4 linked regions of the Homo sapiens genome follow. The protein of the gene in region 1 interacts with the protein of each later gene in a biochemical or structural test. Each region holds a gene or a part of one and is shown in the gene's direction. Other genes may lie near its edges. The genes, in order: KEAP1, PAQR4, MCM3 and AMER1.

The links.
Region 2: the proteins of KEAP1 (region 1) and PAQR4 form a complex in vitro, tested with the Homo sapiens proteins (one study listed by BioGRID).
Region 3: the proteins of KEAP1 (region 1) and MCM3 form a complex in vitro, tested with the Homo sapiens proteins (2 studies listed by BioGRID, with this or other methods).
Region 4: the proteins of KEAP1 (region 1) and AMER1 form a complex in vitro, tested with the Homo sapiens proteins (2 studies listed by BioGRID).

What each region holds. Positions count from the first base shown.
Region 1 is NC_000019.10:10,493,342-10,500,361, reverse strand, and holds part of KEAP1 (kelch-like ECH-associated protein 1), read left to right. Parts: intron 1-281; 5' UTR 282-328; coding exon 329-967; intron 968-7,020. UniProt on the Homo sapiens protein: Substrate-specific adapter of a BCR (BTB-CUL3-RBX1) E3 ubiquitin ligase complex that regulates the response to oxidative stress by targeting NFE2L2/NRF2 for ubiquitination.
Region 2 is NC_000016.10:2,965,310-2,972,354, forward strand, and holds the start of PAQR4 (progestin and adipoQ receptor family member 4), read left to right. Parts: upstream 1-4,038; 5' UTR 4,039-4,365; coding exon 4,366-4,531; intron 4,532-5,847; coding exon 5,848-6,069; intron 6,070-6,205; coding exon 6,206-6,639; 3' UTR 6,640-7,045. Other genes in the region: KREMEN2 (kremen protein 2 isoform d precursor), read left to right, coding at 831-922, 1,016-1,140, 1,333-1,486, 1,601-1,933, 2,011-2,136, 2,217-2,295, 2,501-2,711. UniProt on the Homo sapiens protein: Plays a role in maintaining adipose tissue function through the regulation of ceramide levels. Mediates the stability of ceramide synthetases, CERS2 and CERS5, and their activities.
Region 3 is NC_000006.12:52,267,735-52,274,754, reverse strand, and holds part of MCM3 (DNA replication licensing factor MCM3), read left to right. Parts: intron 1-838; coding exon 839-1,013; intron 1,014-1,398; coding exon 1,399-1,525; intron 1,526-2,252; coding exon of another isoform or gene 2,253-2,303; coding exon 2,304-2,454; intron 2,455-5,528; coding exon 5,529-5,669; intron 5,670-6,748; exon of another isoform or gene 6,749-6,786; coding exon 6,787-6,890; intron 6,891-7,020. UniProt on the Homo sapiens protein: Acts as a component of the MCM2-7 complex (MCM complex) which is the replicative helicase essential for 'once per cell cycle' DNA replication initiation and elongation in eukaryotic cells.
Region 4 is NC_000023.11:64,202,694-64,210,612, reverse strand, and holds the start of AMER1 (APC membrane recruitment protein 1), read left to right. Parts: upstream 1-4,904; 5' UTR 4,905-5,043; intron 5,044-7,919. Other genes in the region: uncharacterized protein LOC112268307, read right to left, coding at 3,573-3,631, 4,529-4,594. UniProt on the Homo sapiens protein: Regulator of the canonical Wnt signaling pathway.

The sequences.
Region 1 (7,020 bases):
CTTTGCAGGCTGTTGAGGAGTTCAGTTTTACTAGGTACTGTGGGAGGCATTGGAGGATCCAGAGCAGGGGAGAGACATGACTTCATGTATGTTTTAAGATGGGCTCTTGGGCCAATCAGGTTGATCAGGTCGGGGAAGTTTGCAAGTTTGCAAATGGATTCTGCTTCACCTACTTTGCAGGAAAACTGACCTAGGAATTGCTTTATCTTGCAAAACGAGGCCCGGCAGGTGCTGGCCCAGTCCCAACCCCTGCCCTCTGCCCTGTGCTCTCTCCCCTCCAGGTCCCTGAGTGCCAGAGGTGGTGGTGTTGCTTATCTTCTGGAACCCCATGCAGCCAGATCCCAGGCCTAGCGGGGCTGGGGCCTGCTGCCGATTCCTGCCCCTGCAGTCACAGTGCCCTGAGGGGGCAGGGGACGCGGTGATGTACGCCTCCACTGAGTGCAAGGCGGAGGTGACGCCCTCCCAGCATGGCAACCGCACCTTCAGCTACACCCTGGAGGATCATACCAAGCAGGCCTTTGGCATCATGAACGAGCTGCGGCTCAGCCAGCAGCTGTGTGACGTCACACTGCAGGTCAAGTACCAGGATGCACCGGCCGCCCAGTTCATGGCCCACAAGGTGGTGCTGGCCTCATCCAGCCCTGTCTTCAAGGCCATGTTCACCAACGGGCTGCGGGAGCAGGGCATGGAGGTGGTGTCCATTGAGGGTATCCACCCCAAGGTCATGGAGCGCCTCATTGAATTCGCCTACACGGCCTCCATCTCCATGGGCGAGAAGTGTGTCCTCCACGTCATGAACGGTGCTGTCATGTACCAGATCGACAGCGTTGTCCGTGCCTGCAGTGACTTCCTGGTGCAGCAGCTGGACCCCAGCAATGCCATCGGCATCGCCAACTTCGCTGAGCAGATTGGCTGTGTGGAGTTGCACCAGCGTGCCCGGGAGTACATCTACATGCATTTTGGGGAGGTGAGCGGGGAAGTGGGGCTGGGGGCAGTGTCAGGAGAAGGACCAGGGATGGACGAGTGCTCATCACTGTCTCCCCTTGAGATGTCAAGGCAGGAAACTGGAGAAAAAGGAGGTTCTGGGCTGGGTATGGTGGTGTAGTCTCCACAGTTTGAGGGGCTGAGGCGGGGGGATTGCTTCAGGCCAAGAGTTCAAGACCAGCCCAGGCAACATAATGACACCCTGTCTCTAAACAAACAAACACACAAACAAAAAACAACTGGGGCCGGGCGTGGTGGCTCATGCCTGTAATCCCAACACTTTGGGAGGCCGAGGCAGGTGGATCACCTGAGGTAAGGAGTTCAAGACCAGCCTGGCCCACATAGCTAAAACCCATCTCTACTAAAAATATAAAAATTAGCCAGGCCTGGTGGCGGGCGCCTGTAGTCCCAGCTGCTCAGGAGGCTGAGGCAGGAGAATCGCTTGAACCAAGAGGTGGAGGTTGCAGTGAGTGGAGATCGAGCCACTGCACTCCAGCTTGCGCAACAGAGCAAGACTCAGTTTCAAAAAAAAAAAAAATTAAAAAACAACTGGGGTTCTGAGTTCCTTGTCTACACATGTGGGGAGACTGGTGAACAGCTGGGGAAGGTGAGGTCTTCATATGTCTCTGGGCTCCCTGGTTTCTCTGGGGTCAAAGTGGGGCAGAGTGCAGTGAACAGCAGCCAAATCCTAGGGTAGCCCAGCCTTTCGGGCAGTCAGCAAATGTTTATTGGACACCCGTGACAGGCTGCAAGCTGTAAGTCTGAACCTTAGTCATGTTTTCTTTGGTCCACACAATGTCCTTATACTGTTTTTGGTTTCGTTTTCACATTTCTCAGTGAAGGAAATTATCTATAGAAATTGACAAGAGAGGGCAGGGCCCAGTGGCTCACGCCTGTAATCCCAGCACTTTGGGAGGCTGAGGCGGGTGGCTCACCTGAGGTCAGGAGTTTGAGACCAGCCTGACCAATATGGTGAAACCCCATCTCTAATAAAAATACAAAAAAAGAAAACTAGCCGGGTGTAGTGGCATGTGACTATAGTCCCTGCTACTCGAGAGGCTGAGACAGGAGAATCGCTTGAACCGGGGAGGTGGAGGTTGCAGTGAGCCGAGATCGCACCATTGCACTCCAGCCTGGGCGACAGAGCAAGACTCTGTCTCAAAAAAAAAAAAAAAAAAGCCTGGGCGCGGTGGCTCATGCCTATAATCCCAGCACTTTGGAAGGCCAAGGTGGGCAGATCACCTGCGGTCGGGAGTTCAAGACCAGCCTGACCAACATGGAGAAACCACGTCTCTATTAAAAATGCAAAATTAGCCTGGCATGGTGGCTCATGCTTGTAATCCCAGCTACTCAGGAGGCTGAGGCAGGAGAATCGCTTGAACCCGGGAGGCGGAGGTTGCAGTGAGCTGAGATTGCGCCATTGCACTCCAGCCTGGGCAATAAGAGCGAAACTCTGTCTCAAAAAAAAAAGAAAAAGTTTTTGAAGAGATGAGGTCTTGCTCTGTCCCCAGGCTGGAATACAGTGGTGCCATCATAGCTCACTGTAGCCTCCAACTCTTGGGCTCAAGGAGGCCTCCTATCTCAGCCTCCTGAGTAGCTGGGACTATAGGTATGCAGCACCACGCATGGCTAATTTTTTAGTTTTTAAATTTTTTTGTAGAGACAGGGTCTTGCTATGTTGCTGAGACTGGTCTCGAACCTCCTGGCTTTGAACAATCCTCTGGCTTTGGCCTCCCGTAGTGTTGGGATTACAGGTATGAAGCACCATACCAACACCAGGCCAAGAAGTGTTTATTGAGCACTTGCTGTGGGCCAGCCCCTGTTCTAAGTGATTTATGTCCTTTGCATCATTGACTGTTCCCAACTGTCCTATGAGGCAGTACTACCCTTCAGCCTAGGCAAGCAGGGCAGTGCCCCAGGCCCTAAGCCTTCGGGAGTCCCATGTCTTGGTGTTCCTTCCTGGAAATTTTCTAAGTCCCCCACTGGCTGGTACCAGCTGGGATGGATGTTACACTGATCTCTATTTCTCTCCTTCAGGGATAGATTCTTTCCTACCCTCTATGTTACATGTGGGGTTGATCAGACGCCCCAGGGTTCTCTGGCGTTAGTCCTAGGGCCTGCAGCTTCTAGGAAAGTGGTCTATACAGTAGGAGAAACATATACAGTGTTTCTTTCTTGTGTTTGTATGAACATGGGGTACTAGATTAAAACTGATTACATAGACGAGTGCCTGACAACTTTTTTTTTTTTTTTTGAGACGGAGTCTCACTCTGTCACCCAGGCTGGCATGCAGTGGCACTGTATCGGCTCACTGCAACCTCCATCTCCTGGGTTCAAGCAATTCTCCTGCCTCAGCCTCCCAAGTAGCTGGGATTACAGGTGCCTACCACTATGCCCAGCTAATTTTTAAAAAATATTTTTAGTACAGATGGGGTTTCACCATGTTGGCCAGGCTGGTCTCGAACCCCTGAGCTCAGGTGATCTGCCTGCCTTGGCCTCCCTAACTGTGCTGGGATTACAGGCATGAGACACTGCGCCCACGCCCGCCCCCCACCGCCCAGTCCTTTTTTGTTTTTGAGACTGAGTCTGGCTCTATCGCCCAGGCTGAAGTGCAGTGGCAAGATTTCGGCTCACTGCAAGCCTCCATGTCCTGGGTTCAAGCGATTCTCATGCCTCAGCCTCCGAAGTAGCTGGGATTACAGGGGTGCACCACCACGCTGGCTAATTTTTGTATTTTTAGTAGAGACAGGGTTTCACCATGTTGGCCAGGCTGGTCTGGAACTCCTTACCTCACGTGATCCGCCCACCTCAGCCTCCCAAAGTGTTGGGATTACAGGCTTGAGCCACCACGCCAAGCCCCCTTTTTTTTTTTTTTGGGGGTGGGGGACAGAGTCTCACTCTGTCATCAGGCTGGAGTATAGTGGCATGATCTCGGCTCACTGCAACCTCCGCCTCTCGGGTTCAAGTGATTCTCATTCCTCAGCCTCCCAAGTAGCTGGGATTATAGGCATGTGTCACCATGCCCAGATAATTTTTGTATTTTTTGTAGAGATGGGGTTTCACCATGTTGGTCAGGCTGGTCTTGAACTCCTGACCTCAAGTGATCCGCCCGACTTGGCATCCCAAAGTGCTGGGATTACGTGTGTGAGCCACCGCACCTGGCCTTTTTTTTTTTTTTTTCTTTTTTTAGAGACAGGGTCTCACTCTGTCACCCAGGCTGGACTTCAGTGGCACGATCTCTGCTTATCACAAACTCCAGCTCCTGGGCTCAAGTGATCCTCCCACCTCAGTCTCCTGAGTAGCTGAGACTACAGGCGTGAGCTACCATGCTTGGCTAATTTTTATATCTTTTCTTGGTAGAGATGAGGTCTCGCTATGTTGCCCAGGCTGGTCTTAAACTCCTGGGCTCAAGCAATCTTCCCGCCTTGGTCTCCCAAAGTACCAGGATTACAGGCGTGAGCCACCACACCTGGCTACAAGAAATATTTATCCAGGGCTCTGTATACCCTAGAAGTAGCCTTACTTTGAGGTGGCCATTAATATAATCCCATTTTACAGAGGAGGAAAACCAAGACATGGAGCATTTCAGAGATTTGCCCAAGTTACACACCTACGAAGTGGTCGGATCAAAATTCCAACTCATGCTGGTTTCTTCGGAGCTTCCACTTTTTTTTTTTTTGGAGATGGAGTCTCACTCTGTTGCTCAGGCTGGAGTACAGTGGCACAATCTCAGCTCACTGCAATCTCTGCCTCCTGGATTCAAGCGATTTTCCTGCCTCAGCCTCCTCAGTAACTGGGATTACAGGTGCCCACCACCACAGCTGGCTAATTTTTTTGTTTTTAGTAGAGACGGGGTTTCACCGTGTTGGCCAGGCTGGTCTCGGACTTCTGACCTCAGGTGATCCGCCTGCTTTGGCCTCCCAAAGTGCTGGGATTACAGGTGGGAACCACTGTGCTGGCCCAGAGCTGTCACTTGTTTTTTTCCACAACATTCTATTGTGATTGCTTATTTTTTCCTTTTTTAGTCTATTTGCCATTTTAGAAAATGATTTCATTTTAAAAAACAAGATGGGTGAGTTGGCTCGTGCGTATAATCTCAGTGCTTTGGGAGGCTGAGGCAGGAGAATCACATGAGCCCAGGAATTTGAGGTTACAGTGGCACCTCTGCACTCCACCATAGGTGACAGAGCAAGACCCTGTCTCTTAAAAAATAAACTCAGACATCCCATCTCTACTAAAAATACAAAAATTAGCCGGGTGTGGTTGTGCGTGCCTGTAGTCCCAGCTACTCAGGAGGCTGAGGCTGAGGCAGAAGAATCATTTGAACCCGGAGACAGAGGTTGCAGTGAGCCGAGATCACGCCACTGTATCCAGCCTGACGACAGAGTGAGACTCTGTCTCAAAAAAAAAAAAGAAACAAAAGAGGCCGGGCGCGTTGGCTCACGCCTGTAATCCCAGCACTTTGGGAGGCTGAGGCAGGCGGATCACGAGGTCAGGAGATCGAGACCATCCTAGCTAACATGGTGAAACCCCGTCTCTACTAAAAATACAAAAAATTAGCTGGATATGGTGGTGGGCACCTGTAGTCCCAGCTACTCGGAGGCTGAGGCAGGAGAATCGCATGAACCTGGATGGCAGAGCTTGCAGTGAGGCAAGATCGTGCCACTGCACTCCAGCCTGGGCGACAGAGCGAGACTCCATCTCAAAAAAAAAAAAAAAAGAAACAAACAGAAAACTCAGAGGCCAGGCGCGGTGGCTCAGGCCTGTAATCCCAGCACTTTGGGAGGCCGAGGCAGGCAGATCACCTGAGGTCAGGAGTTCAAGACCAGCCTGGTTAACACGGTGAAATCCCGTCTCTACTAAAAATACAAAAACAAAAATTAGCCGGGTGTGGTGGTGGGCGCCTGTAGTCCCAGCTACTCGGGAGGCTGAGGCAGGAGAATGGCGTGAACCCGGGAGGTGGAGCTTGCAGTGAGCCGAGATTGCACCCCTGCACTCCAGCCTGGGCGACAGAGCGAGACTCCATCTCAAAAAAAAAAAAAAAAAAAAAGCCAAGCCAGGTATGGTGATGCACACCTGTAATCCTCAGGAGGCTGAAGTAGGAGAATCATTTGAGCTCAAGAGTTTAAGACCAACGGCCGGACACGGTGGCTCATGCCTGTAATCCCAGCACTTTGGAAGGCAAGGGGGTGGGCCACTTGAGGTCAGGAGTTCCAGACCAACCTGGCCAACATGGTGAAACCCCGTCTCTACCATAAAAATATGAAAATTAGCTGTGCGTGGTGGCACACACCTGTAGTCCCAGCGACTCAGGAGGCTGAGGTGGGAAGATCGTTTGAGCCCAGGAGTTCAAGGCTACAGTGAGCTATGATTGTGCCACTGCACTACAGCCTAGGTGACAGAGCAAAACTGTGTCTCAAAAGCAAAAACAGGCCAGGTCCGGTGGCTCACGCCTGTAATCCTAGCACTTAGGGAGGCTGAGATGGGCAGATCACCTAAGGTCAAGAGTTCAAGACTGGCCAGGCGAGGTGGCTCACGCTTGTAATCCCAGCACTTTGGGAGGCCGAGGCGGGCGGATCACGAGGTCAGGAGATCAAGATCATCCTGGCTAACACAGTCACCCCGTCTCTACTAAAAATACAAAAAATATTAGCCAGGCACGGTGGTGGGCCCCTGTAGTCCCAGCTACTCGGGAGGCTGAGGCAGGAGAATGGCGTGAACCCGGGAGGTGGAGCTTGCAGTGAGCCGAGATAGCGCCACTGCAGTCCGGCCTGGGCAAAAGAGCGAGACTCCATCTCAAAAAAAAAAAAAAAAAAAAAAGAGTTTGAGACCAGCCTGGCCAACATGAAGAAATGCCATCTCTACTAAAAATACATAGTGAAACTCCGTCTCTACTAAAAATAAATACAAAAAAATGGCCGGGCGCGGTGGCTCACGCCTGTAATCCCAGCACTTTGGGAGGCTAAGGCGGGTGGATCACAAGGTCAGGAGATCGAGACCATCCTGGCTAACACGGTGAAACCCCATCTCTACTAA
Region 2 (7,045 bases), on another chromosome or scaffold:
TATGGGCGGGGCCTGGTCAGAGCGGGGGCCGAATGGGCGGGGCCTTGTCAGAGTGGGGCTCTTGTCATACAACTTATTTTGGGGTTCAGAGCCACAGCTACGGTCTGAGGCAGGATGGACCCAGCGGGAGGAGAGCCGCAAAGCTCAGGAGCTCACTTCTGCTTTTAAGTGGGGTTGGAGGCCAGGCGCGGTGGCTCAGCCTGTAATCCCAGCACTTTGGGAGGCCAAGGCAGGCGGATCATCTGAGGTCAGGAGTTCGAGACCAGCCTGGCTACCATGGTGAAACCCCATTTCTACTAAAAATACAAAAAATTAGCGGGGCATGGTGGCGGGCGCCTGTAATCCCAGCTACTCAGGAGGCTGAGGCAGGAGAATCGCTTGAACCCGGGAGGCGGAGCTTGCAGTGAGCAGAGATCGCGCCAATGCACTCTAGCCTGGGTGACAGAGCGAGACTCGTCTCAAAAAAAAAAAAAAAAAGTGGGGTTTGAGGGACGGAAGTGGCTGAGGCCCATGCCGGGTGGGGGTGAAGAATACAGATGGCCTCAAAGTCCTCATATATGGAGTCAAGTCTAGCAACAGCTGAAGCCTAAAAACAGCTCTCAAGTCCCCTTTAATGACTTCCCGCTGTCCACTCGGAAGTCGACGTCCAGTTCCTTCATCAGGCAGAGTTCTGCGTAGACAAAACTGGAATTTGTGGGTGTACAGCAGGCAGCACAGCCGCTCACAGGCACAGAGCCTTGAAGGCCACTTTGAGCATAGGCTGCGGGGCCGGGCCTGGGTTTGCTATTCTTGGGGTGGTGGGAGCCCCACCACCTCCCTCCCACCCGCAGTAACCCAGACGGTGACGTGCAGCCGTGGTGCTACGTGGCTGAGACAGAGGAGGGCATCTACTGGCGCTACTGCGACATCCCCTCCTGTCACAGTGAGTAGCGCGGCTGGACAGAGGTGGGAACGCTGCTGCATCTGGGAGGAGGGTTGTTTTCGGAGTCACGGAAGTCTGACTCTGCCCCCTCAGTGCCAGGCTACCTGGGATGCTTTGTGGACTCAGGGGCACCCCCAGCCCTCAGCGGCCCCAGCGGCACCTCCACGAAGCTCACGGTCCAGGTGTGCCTACGCTTCTGCCGCATGAAGGGGTACCAGGTACTGCTCACGGGCCCAGACCAGTGACCCCTGACCTGGACCTAAAGACCACACTCAACTCCCAACACTCGGTTGCCAAACCCAGACACCGGTTTCTGAACCTCCAGCCCGATTCCCACCCCGACCCCAGGCCCCCACCACTTCACCCCTACCCCAGCCCCTGCCCTGGGGTCACCCAGTCTGTGCTCCCAGCTGGCGGGCGTGGAGGCCGGTTACGCCTGCTTCTGTGGCTCTGAAAGCGACCTGGCCCGGGGACGCCTGGCCCCCGCCACCGACTGTGACCAGATCTGTTTCGGCCACCCTGGACAGCTGTGTGGCGGCGATGGGCGGCTGGGCGTCTATGAAGGTGAGGAGTGGGCGGGGACCAGGGGCCTGGGCGGGCCTCGAGGTGGGGCCTGGCCGGGCAGGGGAGCCGCCGTGTCCTGGTCCTCAGGATGCTGACTGCCGGCCCCGCCCGCAGTGTCGGTGGGCTCCTGCCAGGGGAACTGGACAGCGCCTCAGGGCGTCATCTACTCCCCGGACTTCCCGGACGAGTACGGGCCGGACCGGAACTGCAGCTGGGCCCTGGGCCCGCCAGGCGCCGCGCTGGAGCTCACCTTCCGCCTCTTCGAGCTGGCCGACCCGCGCGACCGGCTGGAGCTGCGCGACGCGGCTTCGGGCAGCCTGCTCCGCGCCTTCGATGGCGCCCGCCCACCGCCGTCCGGGCCGCTGCGCCTGGGCACTGCCGCGCTGCTGCTCACCTTCCGAAGCGACGCGCGCGGCCACGCGCAAGGCTTCGCGCTCACCTACCGCGGTGAGCCTCAGCTCGGCGCGCCCTGCCCGCTGTTCCCACCCCGCTCTCCCCACCCCGCCTCACGCCCCTCTCCGCAGGGCTGCAGGACGCCGCTGAGGACCCAGAGGCCCCCGAGGGCTCGGCCCAGACCCCCGCGGCGCCCCTCGACGGGGCCAACGTGAGCTGCAGCCCCAGGCCTGGGGCTCCGCCGGCCGCGATTGGGGGTGAGGCGGGCGCGCGGGACGGGAGTGAGTCAGGGAGCCGCCCCCTCGCGCCCATCCTCACCGCAGCCGTGTGCCCGCAGCCCGGGTCTTCTCGACGGTGACGGCTGTCTCGGTGCTGCTGCTGCTGCTCCTGGGGCTGCTGCGTCCGCTGCGCCGACGGTGCGGGGCGCTGGGGCAGGGCCTGAGGGCGGACCGGTGGTGGGGAGCTGGAGCCCCAGAAGGGAACAGAGCTAGGAAGGAACTCCTGGGTTCTTAAGGGAGCGAGGCTTTGGGTCCACGCACAGGATCGCGCGCGGGATCGCAGGTAGAGCAGGACGCTGCAGCGGGATTGGACCGGCTCGGCTGATGTCTGCTCCCTCTCTAGGAGCTGTCTGCTGGCTCCGGGAAAAGGGCCCCCGGCGCTGGGGGCTTCCAGGGGCCCCAGGAGAAGCTGGGCTGTGTGGTACCAACAGCCCCGAGGGGTGGCCTTGCCCTGCTCCCCCGGGGACCCCCAGGCTGAGGGTTCTGCCGCGGGCTACCGGCCTCTGAGTGCCTCCAGCCAGAGCTCCCTGCGCTCGCTCATCTCCGCTCTCTGACTCTGGGCCCCGAGGGTCCGCTGGGCCCGCCGCCGGCGAGATGGACACCTGAGATGCTGTGCTGCGCCCTGCCTCGGCCTTGCGCCTGTGTAGGGGCAGCTCGGCCTCTGGTCGCCTTGGGGAGACCAAAAGTCGGACAGGAAACATCTGGTGCTATTATCTGGGACTTGGCCTGACCGTGGGGGTCCAGATGGTCCAGGCCCTCTCCATGGACCTGTATGTGGGGGTGGTCTCTGGTTTCGGAGGTCTTTGAACCCCTCTGGGGGTGGTCCTGGACTGCCGTCCTCAGTGAGAGGTCACAGGTCAGCAAAAACAGTCAAAAAACCCCCACAGATTTTGAATAAAGGATCTACTTTGGTACGGGCCTCGAAAGTTCTTCCGTGGTGGGAGGAGCATGTTAATGACCATACAAACGCCGAGGGTTGCGTGTGTCCATGCAAATGAAGGGCGTTGCACGCAGACTTTGGTGGAGCTGCCTGGAATGCAGAGAAGGACCTAGAACACAGACAGATGGGTGGGTGGGTGGAGTCCTGTAGAAGGCGGGGGGTGGAAGGGGAGGAGGATCGTGGGCAGCGTTATGCTGAATAAGGGGTGCCTTCCCGGTCCCTGCTCAGGGTGGACGGGGCGGAGGTCGACTTTGCTCCCCTGGCCTCCAATCTGTTTCCTGTCTATCCTCGGTAGGGCCCCGCAAGGGTGCTCCTTGTGGGCGATAACTGGGAGCAAGTTGGGCCGGGCCCACGCTCCGAGAAGCCTAGCGCGAAGGATAGGGCCTCTCCCGACGGCTGCGGGCGCGTGAGGCACGCCTTCAGAGGCCTGGGTACCGTGGAGCGCCTTGCTGCACTCGGGAGTCCAGCCTGCGGAAAGATCACTTTGGAGCGGGGGCGTACCGGATGTAGGCCGGACCCGTCCGGCAGCACCTTGGACAGAGCCCCGTCTGCAGGGTAGGGCTAGGTGGCAGGACTATGCCCCCGAGGGTGGGTGCCCAAAGGTACGGAGACCTGGGTGTCACGCGGAAAGCCCGGATGCACAGTTCTGAGGGACGCGAGGTGCCAGGGTCACTCTAGCGCAGCCCGCAGGACCCAGAACGTTGGGTCGCAAGCCCACAGCCACCCCATGCAAATGAGGCTGGGAGCGCGCACACTATGCTAGGAGGCGAGGCCTGGGCGGCCTCGGGGCGGAGCCTCCCCGCCGGCCACGCCCATTGGCTCTCGCTGCGCCGACGTCAGGAGCCCGGCGCGCGAAACGCTGGCCGGCCGGCGGGAACTAGGAGCCTGGGCGGAGCCTGGCGTCCCCTCCCGCGTCCGGCCGCGCCCGTCCTCCTGGCTGCAGAGAGACTACCGGCCACCGCCGCCGCCGCCGCCGCGAGCTGTCCCTGCGGCGCGTCTGCCTTGGCGGAGCCGACCGCAGTGCGCTCAGGCGTCCGGTGCGTCCCCAGCCTCCGCCCCGGCGCGGGGGCGACGGACTCGCGCGTGCGCAGCGCCGGAGGGGCGCGGGCTGGGACCCCCTAGCCAGCGCGTGCGCCGATCGAGCGCAGGGCGATGGGTGGGCGCCGGGCGCCGGGCGCCAGGCAGTGATGGGCCTTCCCGCGCTGCGGCCCCACTGAGGAGGAGGCTCGGGGACAGCAGGAGCACGGGCTGCCCGCGCGGTGCGGACCATGGCGTTCCTGGCCGGGCCGCGCCTGCTGGACTGGGCCAGCTCGCCGCCGCACCTGCAGTTCAATAAGTTCGTGCTGACCGGGTACCGGCCCGCCAGCAGCGGCTCGGGCTGCCTGCGCAGCCTCTTCTACCTGCACAACGAACTGGGCAACATCTACACGCACGGTGAGCCGCGTCCCGCAACGCGCTTCCCACACCCCCGGCCGCCCTACCTGCGTTGGGCCGGGGGCACTGAGGCCGAGGAGGGCCCCAGCGCCCAAGTCCAGGGCTGCCCCGGCCCTGGCACCGCCAGTAGCCGCGGTGACAAAGCTGCCATTGTCCCGGGCCGCGCTGCCAGCTTCCGTTTTCCCGGCGGGTGGGGGCCGGGTCAGGAGAGGGGAGCAGAGTAGGGTCTGAGCCTGCTTAATCCCTCTGAGCCCCAGGGGTAGGGAGCATGGTGTCCGGCCTCTGTAATCCCAGCGCCCTGGGAACCCCCTCCCGCCAGCACCCAGCCGGGAGATGGTGTTGACTGCGATGAGGAGGGCCCGGGAGGAGCCTCCCAGCGCCGCCGTCCTGACGCCCCCGCCCCAAGCCGCTCTGTCTTGGGGCTCCGCCTGGTGGCGGCTCCTTCTTCCCCCAACAGGCGTCCGGCCCCTCCTCCGCGCCCCGCGGAGCTCTGCTGACACAGCCCTGCCCGTCCTTGAGCTGCCCCAGGCGGGCAAGGGGCCCTGAGCGGCCTGGCCCAGCCTGGGTGCCTTTCCCGAGCTTTTGCCAGGCCACATTCTCACAAGGGTGGGCAGCCTTCGGAGCCCCGTTTGGCCCCTGGGAGGCCAGTACTAGAGGCCGGCAGGGAGGGGTGGAGACCTCCCAGAAAGGGCTAGGCTGGAATCAAACTCCCCAGGGAGAGGTCTGGGGAGATGGGACAAGCCCCTCGAAGCCCCCTTCCCTTCATTCTGGACTTGTCTTCCCCCACCTGGCCTCACCCCTTTATAGAAGATAAAAAGGCCCAGTGCCTCCATTTGTCTGGACACTTATGGAGAGGGGAGGACTTGGGTTGGGAAGAGCAAGCCAAGTGGCCCCGGGCTGGCATCACTGCTCATGTGTCCTCTTCACAACTCAACTTGAGGTTTCGCTGCCTTAGCCTTCTCCTGTGACCTGCTTGTATGGGGAGAGCAGTGTGGGAGTGGGACGGCCTAGGCCTGTCCTCTGCCATTGCTTACCTGCTGGGCTCACCCGGGGCCGGTCACTCAGCCCCTCCAAGTCTGTTTCCTCACCTGCAAAGTGGGGATCATGGTCTCTACTTCCCAGACCATCCTGAGCCATGATAAGTAACCAGTGCCAAAAGCCTTTTGCCCAGGGCCTGTCTCTGGCCAAGGCCAGGCCGCCAACTGGATGACAGCATTACCTGGACCTGTCTTGCCCTGTCCTGTGTTGTGTCTGAACCGTGGTCCCCTTGAGGATGTGACTGAAACTATCTGGTAGATGACTGTCTCCCTCCCTAGGGCTGGCCCTGCTGGGCTTCCTGGTGCTGGTGCCAATGACCATGCCCTGGGGTCAGCTGGGCAAGGATGGCTGGCTGGGAGGCACACATTGCGTGGCCTGCCTTGCACCCCCTGCAGGCTCCGTGCTCTATCACCTCTTTATGTGCCACCAAGGGGGCAGCGCTGTGTACGCCCGGCTCCTCGCCCTGGACATGTGTGGGGTCTGCCTTGTCAACACCCTTGGTGAGTCAGGGCCCAAGGGATGGGAGCTGGAGCCACCGGCGGGAGAGGCATGGGGCACGCATACAAGCCATGGGTAGGGAAGGGCGGGTGGACCCTCACAATGACATGCCCTCTCCTGTTCTCTCCTCTTGTGCAGGGGCCCTGCCCATCATCCACTGCACCCTGGCCTGCAGGCCCTGGCTGCGCCCGGCTGCCCTGGTGGGCTACACTGTGTTGTCGGGTGTGGCCGGCTGGCGTGCTCTCACCGCCCCCTCCACCAGTGCTCGGCTCCGGGCATTTGGATGGCAGGCTGCTGCCCGCCTACTGGTATTTGGGGCCCGGGGAGTGGGTCTGGGTTCAGGGGCTCCAGGCTCCCTGCCCTGCTACCTGCGCATGGACGCACTGGCGCTGCTTGGGGGACTGGTAAATGTAGCCCGTCTGCCCGAGCGCTGGGGACCTGGCCGCTTTGACTACTGGGGCAACTCCCACCAGATCATGCACCTGCTGAGCGTGGGCTCCATCCTGCAGCTGCACGCCGGCGTCGTGCCCGACCTGCTCTGGGCTGCCCACCACGCCTGTCCCCGGGACTGAGCTGCCATGCCAGCCTGCCCACAGCAGCCTCCTAGAGTTAGCAACACCAGGTGTTCCTCCCAACTCGTCTGCAAGGGGCTGGCTCCTTGGATGCTTCCAGCTCATGAGATGTCTCAGCAGGAGCCCTGTTCACCCGTTCTTCCCTGTGGACTGACCTCTTCCACCCACGCCGTGGCGCTCCAACTTCCTTCCCTGCCTTTTCCCTCCAAGCTCCTATTTTACTGTGTCAGCTGGAAGGAAACCTTTCCCTCTTGGGACCTCTTTACCCTCTGTGACCTGTGGGGTTAGACCAGAGAGGGACTCTGGGGTCACGTCTTGCTCTGAGAGTTCAAGTCCTGCCAGGCCGCCAGCCCAGAGCCTCCTCACCCTATCCTGTTCCTCCCACCAGGCCTGTGGCCAGTCTTCC
Region 3 (7,020 bases), on another chromosome or scaffold:
GAAAGGAGAGTATTGGGGTTTTTGAATCCCAAGGAAAAACTCCCTTGATTTTTTTTTTTTTTTTCTGAGACATAGTCTTACCCTGCCACCCAAGCTGGAGTACAGTGGAGTGATCCTGGCTCACTGCAGCCTCGACCTCCCTGGGCTCAGGTGATCCTCCCACCTCAGCCACTTGAGTAGCTTGGACTACAGATGCGTACCACCATGCCTGGCAAATTTTTTTTTCTTTTTAAGTTTTTATAGGGACAGGGTTTTGCATGTTGCCCAGGCTGGTCTCGAACTCCTGGGCTCAAGCAGTCCACCTGCCTCAGACTCCCAAAGTGCTGGGATTACAGGTGTGAGTGGATGTGCCTGGCCAGTTTCTAAGATGTTATGATATATAGATCATTGACCATTTTAGTTGAGGTTTTACTTGTATCTTCTGAGTAAGGGACTCCAAAAAGTTCTAAGTGCTTGTAGCCTAACCAACTTGCCCTGTCTTTATGACAGGTAGGGGAAAGGGATCATCTTTCAGAGTCAGGTCCTGCCTTGGGAATGAGAAGAGCAGAATAAGGTTTGGGAAGCAGGGGCCTGGTTTTCAGACCTACACTCAGCCTGTTAGAGGTTCCTGTAGTAGAAAGTGGGGCTTCCTAGGAAGCTCAGTTAAAGAAGGGTTGCAGGTAGAAGAGATGATTTACATTGTTTAATGGCTTTAAAACACTTCCCTTTTTCACTGCTTTTTGTCTGTTTTGCTCTTTGAGGTCAAGCCTTTCATTCCCACTCCCAGAACTGCAGCAGCCTTGTTGTTCTTTCTTCCTATTGATGTCATGTCCACTTCTGTTGTCCTCGCATTCCCCAGTATGACCAGTATAAGACTCCAATGGAGAACATTGGGCTACAGGACTCACTGCTGTCACGATTTGACTTGCTCTTCATCATGCTGGATCAGATGGATCCTGAGCAGGATCGGGAGATCTCAGACCATGTCCTTCGGATGCACCGTTACAGAGCACCTGGGGAGCAGGATGGCGATGGTGAGGCCATAAGAATAGTAAGAGTAACTAATGGAAAGGCGCTAAACAGATGGTAGTTTCTCAGGCCCAACCCAGGTGGTGGTAGGTGTTTCAGTGTCCGGGTTGATGTTGAAGAGCCCTCAACTGTTTAGCCACCTCCCCTTCTTGCTTAGTGGAGGGTATCCTAAGGTGTGTCTTTTGTCCATTTCTGGGTCTGGGAATAACTGAGCATCTTGTGTGAGCCAGGCAGTTCCACTATCTTTATTTGTGGGTTCCATGTGTCTGATTCTTTTTGGGCCCTTTCTTTATGAATCTTGGTGTCTCCCCTTCTTGTGCTATAGAAGAAGCAATTTCCCCTGGGTTAAACTCTTTATTACTCTCCTTTCTCCTAACTTGGGTATACCAGCTATGCCCTTGGGTAGTGCTGTGGATATCCTGGCCACAGATGATCCCAACTTTAGCCAGGAAGATCAGCAGGACACCCAGATTTATGAGAAGCATGACAACCTTCTACATGGGACCAAGAAGAAAAAGTGAGCATTCTCATAACTCTTCCTCAAGGGAACCTGAAATATGTGTTATATTAGAGCATGTGTATATCTAAGCTTAGCTAAGGCCTTATATGCCCAGGTCAAAGCCATGCCTGGAGTCATAACCACGTGGATTAATTTTCTTCTTTTCTGGGTCCACAATATATCCTTTATCCTGGCCAGTTGCCTTGTAAATGTTTAGGTGATTCAGCGCAGGTTCAGGTCTTTTCTTAAAATAGAGTTTTGATGATACGCCTGATGGTGGGTGTGCCTTATATATGAAAGATGGCAAGTGTCATGTAGCCATTTGTGATGAAGGGTCAGCAGATAGCAAACATTTGAGACTTTGTAGGTAGACTTGGTGAAGGAGACGTGTGATCAGGTGCTCAAAGCATGAAATGTGGGATCTTACACCTATTTTTGGCCATGATGCAGTAAGAAGCATAGCATAATCTTCAAAGCTGTTGGTTTAAGAATGTAGAATTTGGAGTCAGAAAACTTTTAGTCAACTTGAGCTTCTCTGAGCTGTAGTTTTCCCACCTACAAAATAGAGCAAATAATACCTAAACTTTCTGCCTAAACTACCTAACTTACAAATAATACCTGTAATAATTAAATAAAAATATGTGAAAGAGTCTTGTCTATGTTCCATATAAATGGGAGTTATGATAATGGGTTCTAGGCTTTGTTTTGACCCTGGCTTTTCTGAGAGGCAAAGCCACTAATCCAGGCAGGTGGTAAGGTGTGGCAGGGAGATGGAATTCACTGTGTGTGGCTCCAGGGAGAAGATGGTGAGTGCAGCATTCATGAAGAAGTACATCCATGTGGCCAAAATCATCAAGCCTGTCCTGACACAGGAGTCGGCCACCTACATTGCAGAAGAGTATTCACGCCTGCGCAGCCAGGATAGCATGAGCTCAGACACCGCCAGGGTGAGTGCCTGGGGGAGCCTAGGCTTGGGGTCCCTTAGGTATATGGCTGGGCAGGAGTCCCTGCTATCTGGGAGCTTTGAAAGCATTTTAACTTAGTGACTTTTTTCCTGGTCTGAAGGGCTTCCTGTTATACAATTTTAATCATTTCCTTTTATAAAGGAAAATGAAATAAGGACCCCAGAGATAACATGTCTCTTATTAGTTAAAATGACATTGGCCTCCAGAAGCTGTGATTCATTCAGCAAACATAGGAGTGACTTCTGGGAAGTGACCTAGTCTTTCCTCTTACAAGCAATGTAAAATTAATAAACACTCTTTTCAAAGAGCTCAGATCCGGAGCGGGGGAAGCACAAAGGTAGATAGAAAGACTTCCGTACATATTTATAAATATTTACCCCAGTGTGGTACTTACAAAGGAATGAACGTGAAAGGCTATTTGAGCATAGACGAATAAACTGTTAATTTCTTTTAGACTTCCCTGAAGGGGTATGAATGTCAAGGAAGGATTCCCAGAGAGTATGATATTTGGACTGGACTTTGAAAAAATGACTAACAGGCAACCATGATGGTTATTCAAAGCAATTTCTGGTAACCTAATATAGGTGTCCATGAATTTGTCTAAATCTTTTTTTTGTTTTGTTTTTGTTTTTGTTTTGGTGAGACAGAGTTTCACTCTTGTTGGCTAGGCTGGAGTGCAATGGCGCGATCTCAACTCACTGCAATCTCCACCTCCCTGGTTCAAGCGATTGTTCTGCCTCAGCCTCCTGAGTAGCTGGGATTACAGGCATGCACCACTACACCCGGCTAATTTTGTGTTTTTAATAGAGACCAGGTTTCTCCATGTTGGTCAGGCTGCTCTGGAACTTCCTACCTCAGGTGATCCGCCCGGCTTGGCCTCCCAAAGTGCTGGGATTACAGGTGTGAGCCACCATGCCCGGCCCAAATTTGTCTAAATCTTTTAGGGGCAGTGTAGTTCACATAGGATTTTACAGCAGAAAGACCCAAGTCCAGAACTCTTATTATGTTACATAGACATAGATTCTTGGATTAGACATGATCCCAGATCATCTACTCAAGCCTCACCCACTCTGTCTTTTCAAATCCCTGCTGGGACTTTTTTTTTGAGATGCGGTCTTGCTGTGTTACCCAGGCTGGAGTGCAGTGGCATGGTCTGGGCTCACTGCAACCTCCGCCTCCCGGGTAGGTGGGACTACAGGTGCGTGCCACCATGCCCGGCTAATTTTGTATTTTTAGTAGAGACGGGGTTTCACTGTGTTGACCAGGCTGGTCTCAATCTCCTGACCTCGTGATCCGCCCATCTCGGCCTTCCAAAGTGCTGGGATTATAGGCATGAGCCCGGCCGGGACTTCTTAATACCCCCAGTGACAGCATGCGCAGAGCATCACTGTTTTGAAATTTTAGAATATTTATTAAGCTTAAACCTATTTTCCCACAACTTTTACCTGTGGGTGTTAGTCTTGTTTTCTGGAGGTTGTGTATCGCCTGTCTTCCTCATTAAACAGCTTACTTTCTTTTTAACTGTTCCTTTCCACATGCGAACTTCTGGTGTGTCCCAGGCCCTCTCATTGAACCTAGAACTGAGCGTCATACACTATTTTAATTGTCTTAGTGTGGGGTCTGTAAGTGAATTCCAAGAGAATTTGGATTCTCTAGGTCTGCTAGTGCAGGCCAGGATTTCACCAGCTTTTTAGGTGGTTTAAGAATTAGAACTTGTCATGGAGTGTATGACTTCCAAACTCCGGTAGCTTTCTAAATTATTACAAGATTTGATGAATGAATTTAAATGTGAATGTATTTATTTTTGAATGTCATTGTGGATATACATGGTAATTTAGGAAACTTGAAACAAGAAGTGACCAGGATACGTCAGTGATGGGGTCATATAATGGGAGACCCGGGAGGTGTGACAGAAGGAAGTAGTTTCTTTTTTTTTCTTTTTTTTTTTTTTTTTGAGATGGAATCTCGCTCTGTTGCCCAGGCTGGAGTGCAGTGGCATGATCTTGGCTCACTGCAACCTCTGCCTCCCGGGTTCAAGCTATTCTCCTGCCTCAGCCTCCTGAGTAGCTGGGATTACAGGCATGCGCCACCACACCGGGCTAATTTTTCTTTTGTATTTTTAATAGAGATGGGGTTTCACCATGTTGGTCAGGGTGGTCTCAAGCTCCTGACCTTGTGATCCGCCTGCCTTGGCCTCCCAAAGTGCTAGGATTACAGATGTGAGCCACCACGTCCGGGCTGGAAGTAGTTTCATGTCTGATCCCAGCTCTGCAGCTAGCTTTTGGACTGTGGACAAATCCTTTCACCTGTCAGGTCAGCTTTCTTATCCATAAAATGAGAGGATTGGATACATCAGAATCACCTGAAACTTGTACACATATCTAGTCCTAAACACTGAGATTTCTGATTCATTCATTTCCAATTCATTCTGATTGATTAGGTCAAGAAAGGCCATTCAGACAATAGCATTTTAAAAGATAAAGGCATCCCAGTTTGGTATTCATCGGCCCCTGTGAGAAACATTTGTTAGGAATGTGTCAGAGTTCTCCTTCTCCGGACTGAGTTTACTGAAGTTACGTTTTTGTCCTCAGATTACTTCTTTCCTATCCCTCCTTTAGTGTGACTTTGGAAAATCTCCTTGAAGGTCTTTGAGTCCCATTTCCTTCATGTATAAAACTTCTCCAAGTTATTAAGAGGGTGAAATGACAGAATGTATATAAAGGCAAACTTCCTGCTGCATTGCAGGCCTGCAATCACTGATGATTTTTCTCCCTTCTCTTTTCTACGCTGTAGCTTTTTATCTTTCCAGTTGTTAGATGCCTAATCTTCCCTGTTCACTTGCTCCTCCTTCCTGCAACACTCTTGTGTATATTTCCTTGATCATTGCTATCATCTTTCTCATTTTTATATGGTATCTGTAGAGAACACAGAACTCTGAATTCTTTGCTTGGGCCTCCTGGGGCTTTTCTGGTAGTGTCATTTCCCTTTCTGTGCAGTAGGATTGATGGGCATGCCTAAAAGACTTGGGATAAGCAATCCTCCCTTTTCTTCCCTAGACATCTCCAGTTACAGCCCGAACACTGGAAACTCTGATTCGACTGGCCACAGCCCATGCGAAGGCCCGCATGAGCAAGACTGTGGACCTGCAGGATGCAGAGGAAGCTGTGGAGTTGGTCCAGTATGCTTACTTTAAGAAGGTGAGGATTCAGATGCCTGGGCATGAGAGGATCTCCTGGATATATTACAGATGCATGGGCTTCCCAGCCTTCCGTGGCTGACGGCTACATTTGGATTGTCAACAGAAAGCAGTATTTGTCTTCCAGTCATCAGTCTGCCTCACTCTTTCCTCTGAAACACTCAGTGATTCTCAACCCTGACTGCACCAGAGAATCAGATGGAAAGCTTTAAAATGCTGATTCCAGGGCTCCTAGAGATTCTGGTTTAGTTGATGTGCTGTACTTTCAGTTAGCTGCTTCTCTGTCTACCCCTACTTCCTTTGCATCTTAAAAAAAAAAGTAGGTGTTTTCAAAAGAGCTACCTTGGTAATCTTCCTTGTCCCACTCTACCTTTCCTCTTGGTAGTCTCTTCAAATGTCCCATTGGCACCTCAGAAGCTCATGTTTAAAGTTGAACTCTCAAACTTGCCACTCATCCTGTTTCCCTATTTCTGTTTGTGACATTGCACCTCTGTCATTTTAGATATCAAGCCTCAAAGCCTAGACTCCCTTTTCCTAGTTGCCCACTCCCACCCCAGTCTGGTGAATGTTAGCCTTTTGGGGTTGAGTTGTGAGTCTAATAAACTCTTCCTTGCTTTTTGCTAGGTTAAGGGTTGAGTTGTGAGTCTGATAAACTCGTCCTCACTTTTTGCTAGGTTAAGGGTTGAGTTGTAAGTCTGATAAACTCTTCCTCGCTTTTTGCTAGGTTAAGGGTTGAGTTGTGAGTCTGATAAACTCTTCCTCGCTTTTTGCTAGGTTAAGGGTTGTCTTGGATTTCAATTAGACACCTGATTTATAAGGAAATGGATTGTTTTCACTTAACCATTATGGGCTAGACATTTGTTTCTTTATTCAGTAAACATTTATTGAGTACCTACTATATAAACAGCATTTAACATACTTCCCAGCATTTTGAAAAGATGGGTAGCAGTCTCTACTTCTGCCCCTGGTCCTGGGACTTAGGGACAAGAGGAGCTAGGTAAACCATTGGAAACATGGAAGTCTTTCCTGCTTATGATGCAGAAGGGACTGGGAGTTCTTGATGCAGTTCCCCTGCATCAGTGACCCCTCTAGCCCAGCCACACTTGCCTTGGTCTTAGGTTCTGGAGAAGGAGAAGAAACGTAAGAAGCGAAGTGAGGATGAATCAGAGACAGAAGATGAAGAGGAGAAAAGCCAAGAGGACCAGGAGCAGAAGAGGAAGAGGTAAGGTGGGGCAAGCAAATGAGATTAAAAAGTTAGTGGCCAAGAAGTTGGGGGTGCACGCCTGTAATCTTAGCAATTTGGGAGGCCGAGGCGGGTGGGTCACTTGAGTCCAGGAGTTTGAGACCAGCCT
Region 4 (7,919 bases), on another chromosome or scaffold:
CTTCCATTTTCATGATAAGAAAGAGAAAATTTAAAAATGACTCTAAAATAAATAACAATAAAAAATATACCAAGAGGTGGTAAATGCTGTGGATAAGAAAAAAAGGCCTATTAAAGAATTGGAGAGTGAAGGGGGTGGAAATGGGGATTGCTATTTTATATATCAACTGTTCAGTGAAGGTGTCACTATTAATGACATTTGAGCAGCCACCTGAAGGAAATGAGGTGCAAACTATGCCAATATTCAGAGGACAAACACTGTAGGCAGAGGGAGCAGCCAGTGCAAAGGCCCTGAGGTGGGATTTCTGACAAGTCAAATTCAGTATGTCCTAAACAAAATCATTTTTTTTTTGGAGACGGAGTCTCGCTCTGTCGCCCAGGCTGGAGTGCAGTGGAGCGATCAAGGATCACTCCAAGTTCTGCCTCCCAGGTTCATGCCATTCTCCCGCCTCAGCCTCCCAAGTAGCTGGGACTACAGGCGCCCGCCATCACGCCCGGCTAATTTTTTGTATTTTTAGTAGACACGGGGTTTCACCGTGTTAGCCAGAATGGTCTTGATCTCCTGACCTTGTGATCCGCCCACCTCGGCCTCCCAAAGTGCTGGGATTACAGGCGTGAGCCACCGCACCTGGCCACATTTTCCTAATTCTGTTCCTATATTACTCAGTTCAGTGGATGACAACACCATCCAGCAGTCCCTTGTCCAAGTAAGAAACTCAGGAGTTTTCTTCCTCTTCCACTAGACTGGTTGCCCTTGAGACCAGAAGCTGTGTGTAGTCCATCATTCTGGGTAATGAGTGTGTCACTTAACACAGGGCCTGGCACAAAGGAGATGCCCAATGAGTGGTAACATCACACTTCATTGGTGGATGCTGGCACTTAAGCTTGATATTAGGCCTGAAAATGCCTCATTTCATGTTCAGTAAATACATACTCATCAACAAGTTTCTGCCAAACTCTCTGTTGAGTGCTGAGGATATGAAGATGAACAAAATATTCTGCCCTGGGAAACTGAGTCTGGGTCTGCACAATAAAGTGAGTCTGTTCATAAGGAATCATAGGCTCATGTGTGTTTATATTAAAAACTGGTTTCGGCCAGGTGTGGTGGCTCACGCCTGTAATCCCAACACTTTGGGAGGCCAAGGCAGATGGATCATGAGGTCAGGAGATCTAGACCAACCTGGCTAACACAGTGAAACCCCGCCTCTACTAATAATACGAAAAATTAGCTGGGTGTGGTGGCAGGTACCTGTAGTCCTAGCTACTCGGGAGGCTGAGGCAGGAGAATGGCGTGAACCCGGGAGGCGGAGCTTGCAGTGAGCCGAGATCGCTCCACTGCACTCCAGTCCGGGCGACAGAGCGTGACTCCGTCTCAAAAAAAAAACCAAAAACAAAACAAAAACTGGTTTCAAAGTCATATTAGCAGTTCCATAACTTTGAAGATCTGTACATTGGATCAGAAGGATAGCAATAATAATAACAGCATCAGTAACTAACATTTATTGATACCATCTTATGTACTAGCCTCTGTGCCACTTCATATGGACTACTCAATTCTTACCACAATTCTCTGACATGGGTGCTATTATTTTCATTTTGCAGAAAAAAATGTTGAGACTCAGAGAGGTAAATTGACCTGCCCAGATCATACTGCTCCTAAGTGGCAAGCTTCACATCCCAGCCCAGGCAGTCTGGTGGCAGAGCCACTACAACATACCACTTTCCTGGAAAAGATGAACTTAGCTAGTTGAGCCTCAATTTACCCAGGCAGTCATGGTCTTTTACACTTTGGCCCCAGGCCTTTCTTTCTAGTCTAATGTCCAGCTCTTCCTCTCCCCACCACACAAATACTTAGCCACAGCCATCCAGAATTGTAGCTCTTGCCCAACCCACCATACCCTCTCACTGATGGGCTTTGGCTTGGGCAGGAATCCTTCCCCTACTTTTCTGACTTGACCCAACCGTCAAAGCTATCCTCCATAGAACTTTTCTCTGATACCCCTTGCCACCCTGGGGAGAAGGAGTCTCTTCATCTGCAATGCTCCAGAACACCTTTGCCAGACCTCTAGTGTAGATTTCAGTTCCTCTCAGAACTCCATACCCAGGTGCCTCAAAAAGGTTAACACTGTACTGCTTCTCCCAATAACTATCAACAGGCCTGGCATAGAGGAAATGACTATGGAATACTTGGTGAAGAAAGAAATGAGCATTGTAATGATGTGCCCTGTAATGATGTGTCTACTTGAGTTTATGAAGTTGCCTCCACACAGCCCACACATCTGTTCTTATGGGCTTTTCACCGCAGCCACAAGACACTAGGCAGCACGAGGATTATCTCCATTTTGCAGGTAAACAAACTTAAGAAAGATTTCCAGCTCCTCACAACCAGTGCCTGTCTTGACTAAGCAAGTTGACCACGTGTCAGTCAGCATGTGGAATGGGGTCTTACAGTACTCTCTCTATGAGGAGGCATTTTGAGGTGCAAGTTTATGCACACACTTGGTCTTTCCATACATCGTCCCTGGAGAGAAGTGAGCTATGCAAACAAGAAGCTGTGTTGTCCCCTCCCACATCTTTTCCCCTTTAATACACACATACAGTATCCTCCCAAGACTCAGTAATATCTGGACCATAAAGAAGGGTGCTCAGCTGGGAGTTCTCTAGGATCACAAAGAATATTTTTTTTCCTGAAGCCCCATTTCTTTTGGGTTTAGCTCAATTTCTCACGAATTGTTCCTCCCACACTAGTCACTCCAAAAACTGACTGGTGTGACAGAATGTTTGGTGGCTGGGCAGAAGGCATAGAAGACTAGCCCCTGTGACAGGAGCAGCACAATAGTGCCTGGGACTATTTCAAGCCTGCCACCTGACTACTTTGCACACCTCCTCTCTCCCTGCTTCCACAACTGAGACTGCTCTGGCCCTTTGTTTCCCTGGACCCCAGGTTTGCAAACTGCCTTCTCATAATCTTAGTCTAATTCAAAGAATCAAGGTTCTGAGTGAAATGTGAGCAAGTGGCAGTGACCAGAGGCACGAGGTAGGGAGGAAGTCTATAATGGAGATTCTGGAAAAGAAAATAAACTTCCAAATCAGGCCCACAAATGAGAATCAGGACTTTGCAAAGCAGGAAAGCATAGCCCCAGGGAAACTTTTATAGTCCAGCCATCCAGATGGGAAAAAAGTTGCATAATGAGCCAGCAGCAGCTCCCTACTCCTCATCGTTTATTTAGACTCAGTACTAGGATGGGAGTCTGATGTTCAATATTGATTTTTGTTGGCAATGTATAGAATGCCATGGAAGGTCATGGAACATCTATATTTTCTATAATATTCCGTGGAAGATCATGGAATATTATAGAAAAAAATGAGTTGAACTGTCAGATCTCAAAGATATCAAGGGAGCCTGATGATGCTTACCCTCTCCTTGTGGAGGTGGGGTGATGCCCTGGCCCAGAGAAAAAAATGAATTGGCCAAGGTGTCCAGCAAGTCTGAGGTAGAGCTAGAGTCAGATCCCTAGCAGCCATGTCAGTTCCTGTGCTCTACACATGCAGAGGCAGCAGTCCACCTCTTACCAGTTCAGCAGCTGGATCTTTTCAAGACTGTCAGGACCCAGAAGCAGCAGAGAACACTCCTGCAATGCAAAAATAGCACGCATTGTTCTCTAATCCTTCTCTCTATCCTCAGCTTTAATCCACCCACCTCCCTTTTTAGACACACACAGAGTTTTAGGGCTGGGCCTTCTGGATATTCTTGAACTAGTGGTGGAACTAGATTCTTTGCTGCCTCAGCTCACCTGGCCCTGGCAGCCACTGATGCCACTTAATGTCCTTAGGCTAGAGACCCAAGTTCGCCGGGCTCCCTGCCACATCCCACACACAGTAGCAGACAAGGCTGGTACAGGCCTCCTCACTTTGTCCTCAGCCTGACCTCCGGTTTGGGCCCAGACAAGATTTTCCTCTCAATATTTAGACTTTTCAAGGAAAAAGGCCTGCCGAAAGCCAGGCTCACAAAGGATGGGGGAAGGGGGACTCTGGAGACCTTGGGGATTCCCTCCACATTCCATAGAAGGTGCGAAATTTGGGTGAGGGTCAAACTATGGAAACAGGTATCATCTCAGAGAAGAAAAGTGAAAGCAATCCTGGAAAGGGAGCCCGGGGCTCTGGATTCCAAATTGGCCCTTGTCGCCGGCAGGCTGGGTAACTGTGGGGAGGGACTTTCCCCACTCTGGGCAGCAGAGGGCCCGTCGGTAACGGGTGGAAGTTGGCCTCTATGGTCTCTAAGGGCACTGGTGTGCCAGAGAGGCGGACGAAGTTAGGGCGCAGGCGCTGCAGCTAGCTTTCCTGGCAGGTGAGTCCCTCCTCTGGGTGGCCTGGCGGCGCGATCCGCAGGGCCTTGTCTCTACGACTAAGGATAGGCCGGCCCTTAGGTTTCTGCAGTCTTCCCAGATTCCTCAACCTCTCTGCCTCGTTACTCCCCGCCGGCCTCTAGCTCAGGAATAAACGTCCTGGTGGCGGCCAGGGCACAGTACCGCGAATGCACAGCGGCCACAGAAATGGGAGTGCGTGAAAACCGAAACCGATCCGGCGAGCCCCATCCGGGCAGGACTGGCTCCTTGAGGCCACGGTGTAGCCACGCCACTACCAGCCCGGCGTGGGGGCGGGAGTGGGGAGCCCCAGCCAGTGGTTCCGCACCCTCTCCGCCCCCTGCCAACACCACGCCTGCACTTATTTGCATTTAAAGAGAAACGCACCAAGGAAAACAGTGGGCGGGCCGGGGCACGCCTTCCCACCATAGCGATTGGGCCATATGCCTGCCAATCAGGACGCAGATGCCCCACCCGGTGGCCTTGGAGTACTGGGGGAGGGGGTATGGGGGAGCTACCCAAAGCCTGGGGAAGGGGAGTCAGTGCTGGAGGTGACTGGAGCCGCGGCGACGGCGGCAGCAGCTGCGGTGGCGGCGCTCTCAGCCGTGGCAGCCGAGGCTGCAGCCCGGCCCAGGGCGGCTCAGCGGACAATAACCGGGCTAGGAACCTGACCGGGCTGGGTAAGCGTTGCGTACAGCCAGGAGCCTCCGCCTGCCCGCGGTCGGGTGCATTCCCGCGTGCTCTGCTCCTACGGACTGGAGGAGGGCACTAAGGACTAGGCGGGTCGGAGTCCCGGTCGCTCGCCCCTCTCCTTTGGAACCCGCTTTGCGGACTGTCGGGTGGAGAGGCAGAGCGGCCTTGAGTCCCCTGGGCACAAGCGACCACGGCTGGGGGGAGGGGGGTTGGGGAGGGCGGGTAGGAAGGCAGGCTAGCCTGGGCCAAGCCTCCCGGCTTTCGGGGGGGCGGGGATGGGCCCGCACGTGCTGCCGCACAGTCCCGGGAAGGGCGCCGCCAGCCAGCACCCCAAGCCATGCATTTGTAGGCCAGGAGCTCTGCAGCTTTGTTGTAGCACATTTGCTGGAACAGCTGTGTAACGCGGGTACCGCTCACCCCTCTCTCCGGCTGCCTGGCTGCCGCCCCTCCCCTCCCCTGTGCATCTCCAGCCTCTCCCTCCTTTCTGCGGACTCAAGCTGGCGTGCTGGCTTGGGCCCGACGGAGACCGGCTTTGGCGTGGATTGGGACATCCACAGACTGCCCCCTCCCCAGAGGAGCTCAGTTGGGCCTGTGGGCTGAGCTCAGTCGCACACTTCCCTTCAGAACCTTGGCCTTGTGGCCCCAACTAGCCGCGCCCCTCCTCCTGGGCCTCCGGGCGCATCTGGCGCCCGCCCCCGCGGTCGGGCAGGCTGGCTGGCAGCCGGGCTCTTGCTGGTCCTTGGGTTAGAGCAGCGGCGCAAGCTAGTCCTTGAGTTAGAGCTGCAAGGCCGCTTTGTCTCCCGCCTCGCCTCGCCTCACCTCCTTTTCCCTTGGAGGATACTGGCCGCGTTTTCCTCTCCAGCCTCCCGTTTAAAAATAGCAATAGGCACGGTGTTTGGGGGGCATTTCCTTGCCAGAGGCCGAAGGAGCCCTCATTGTAGTACGGAACGTATCATACCATCTCTGTGTACAGGAGAGCTAGCGAGGTGGCCAAACCCTCCAACTTCGCAGTTACTTAACATACCCAGCCCGCCAGGCCCCTGTCATTGTCTGCTGGAGACACTTCTGACACTGGTGACCGCCCGAACGCTGGACTTTGCTTGGCTCCCCCGGTGGTGAGGGGCTGTGCCCGCTACATGCGTCACAGCCCAAGCGCCTAGGCGGCAGCTGGACTGGCCCCGCAGAGCTGGTCTCCGTTTGGCCAGGCTGCTTTCGGCAAGGGCCGCGGGGTCAAGGCGAGCCTTGTTCCACACACAAACATCTTCCTCTGCGGCTCTGCCTGCCTGCTGCAGCGGCGTGGGCATGGGCAAGGCAGAGGGCACTGCACTGTTGGACTGCCTGCCCCACCGGGATTCCAGCAGAGCCCCCTCCCCCAGTGTGGCTCCCCTCATTCGGCACCACCCACTGCACAGTCACTGCACCATGGTGCACCTCTGGCAGTGGGCTCTCTAGGCCTTTTTGAGGAATAGGACAGAGGAAGCCACTGGGGGCTTGGTAAGCTCTTGGACCTTTGATTAACCTCTGGTGTGGAGAGCCCTGTGGGCTGCAGGGCCCAGGCAAAGCTTGGGCACTTTGAGGAGGGGCAACGAGACCCAGTAAATTCCTCACTTGGGGGAAGGCTAGCTCTGGACCTTTATGACAGGAGCCAGGACCACAGATATCACACTACAGTCACCTCCTCCCACCTTGATTAGGCCCCAACACAAACCTCTACTTGCAGCTGGGCATCTCTAGCCCAGGGCTGGACCTGCCCTCTGCCTTGTCTCAGGCCAGCAGGCACCTAATGTATCTGCTCTATGTAACTCCCTTCCCCACACCCAAACCCACTCAGCCTACACCTGTCCAAATCTTCTTCCTTCTCAAACCTCAGTTCTGGGCCTTCCTTTTCCTTGGTGCCTTTCTGCCTGGCTCTTGCCCACCCATGGTGACTTCTTTCTTCTCAGAACTCCTCCAGGGCTGCCTACTTCTCCTGGGCATATTCAGGCTTAAATTATAATAGGATGCAGACTATAATTAAGTTGGCCTGCCTCTGTTTTGTCTGATATCATGGATGTCTGGGTTCTCTCAGAACCCTTTGGAGGAGTAAATAAAACCTGGACCTCAGCCACAACCCTCTCAAAGCCAAGCAGTGCAGAGCAGTTAATGATTGTTCCGGAAGGACTTGCTTTCTTTGTAGAGTTTTCCAGAAGACCTTTACCTTTCCAACTTGCGCTTGTCCTGATTCATATGAAAGTGGCTAGAGAAATGATACTCAAGGCTCAGATATGTATTGAGTGTGCCTAATGAGGATGGATTAGAAGGGGGATGATTGCAACTACAAGAAAAAAATCATGATATATCTTCCCCCAACAACAGGCCCAGGATTTGGAATGCTCAGATCCCAGACCATGCATATCTTTGGTTGCTGATTCATGAGCCAAGAGACAAACTACTTGGAGAGAGATGAAAGATCTGTATAAGCAGGGGGATCATCCATGGAAGCTGCCAGAAAGTAGAGGGGTTTAGTAGGCAAAGCATAAGCAGACCCAGGAATGGGAGGGGAGAAAGTGATTGACAGGCAGGGTGAAGGGAGTGAATGAGTCTATTCTGGTTGAGATGGTGTGGCTCAGAGGTAGAGAAGAGATTGAGGCTCAGTGATGGGGTTTCCCGGATGCCAGGCTGTGGAATGGAAATCTGATCCTTTTAGGGGAAGGCGGCATCAAAGAGTAGGGAATTGACAGGGAGTTGCTATTTTTGTATGTAACTAAGCAGTAATAAAAACAAGGTTTTTGAATGAGTTTTAGAATGGGGTCTTAGAAAGGGATCAGAAGCATGCTGCAAAGTCAGCCAGTTAAGAGGTCACCTTTGGATCTGGAAGTAGAGC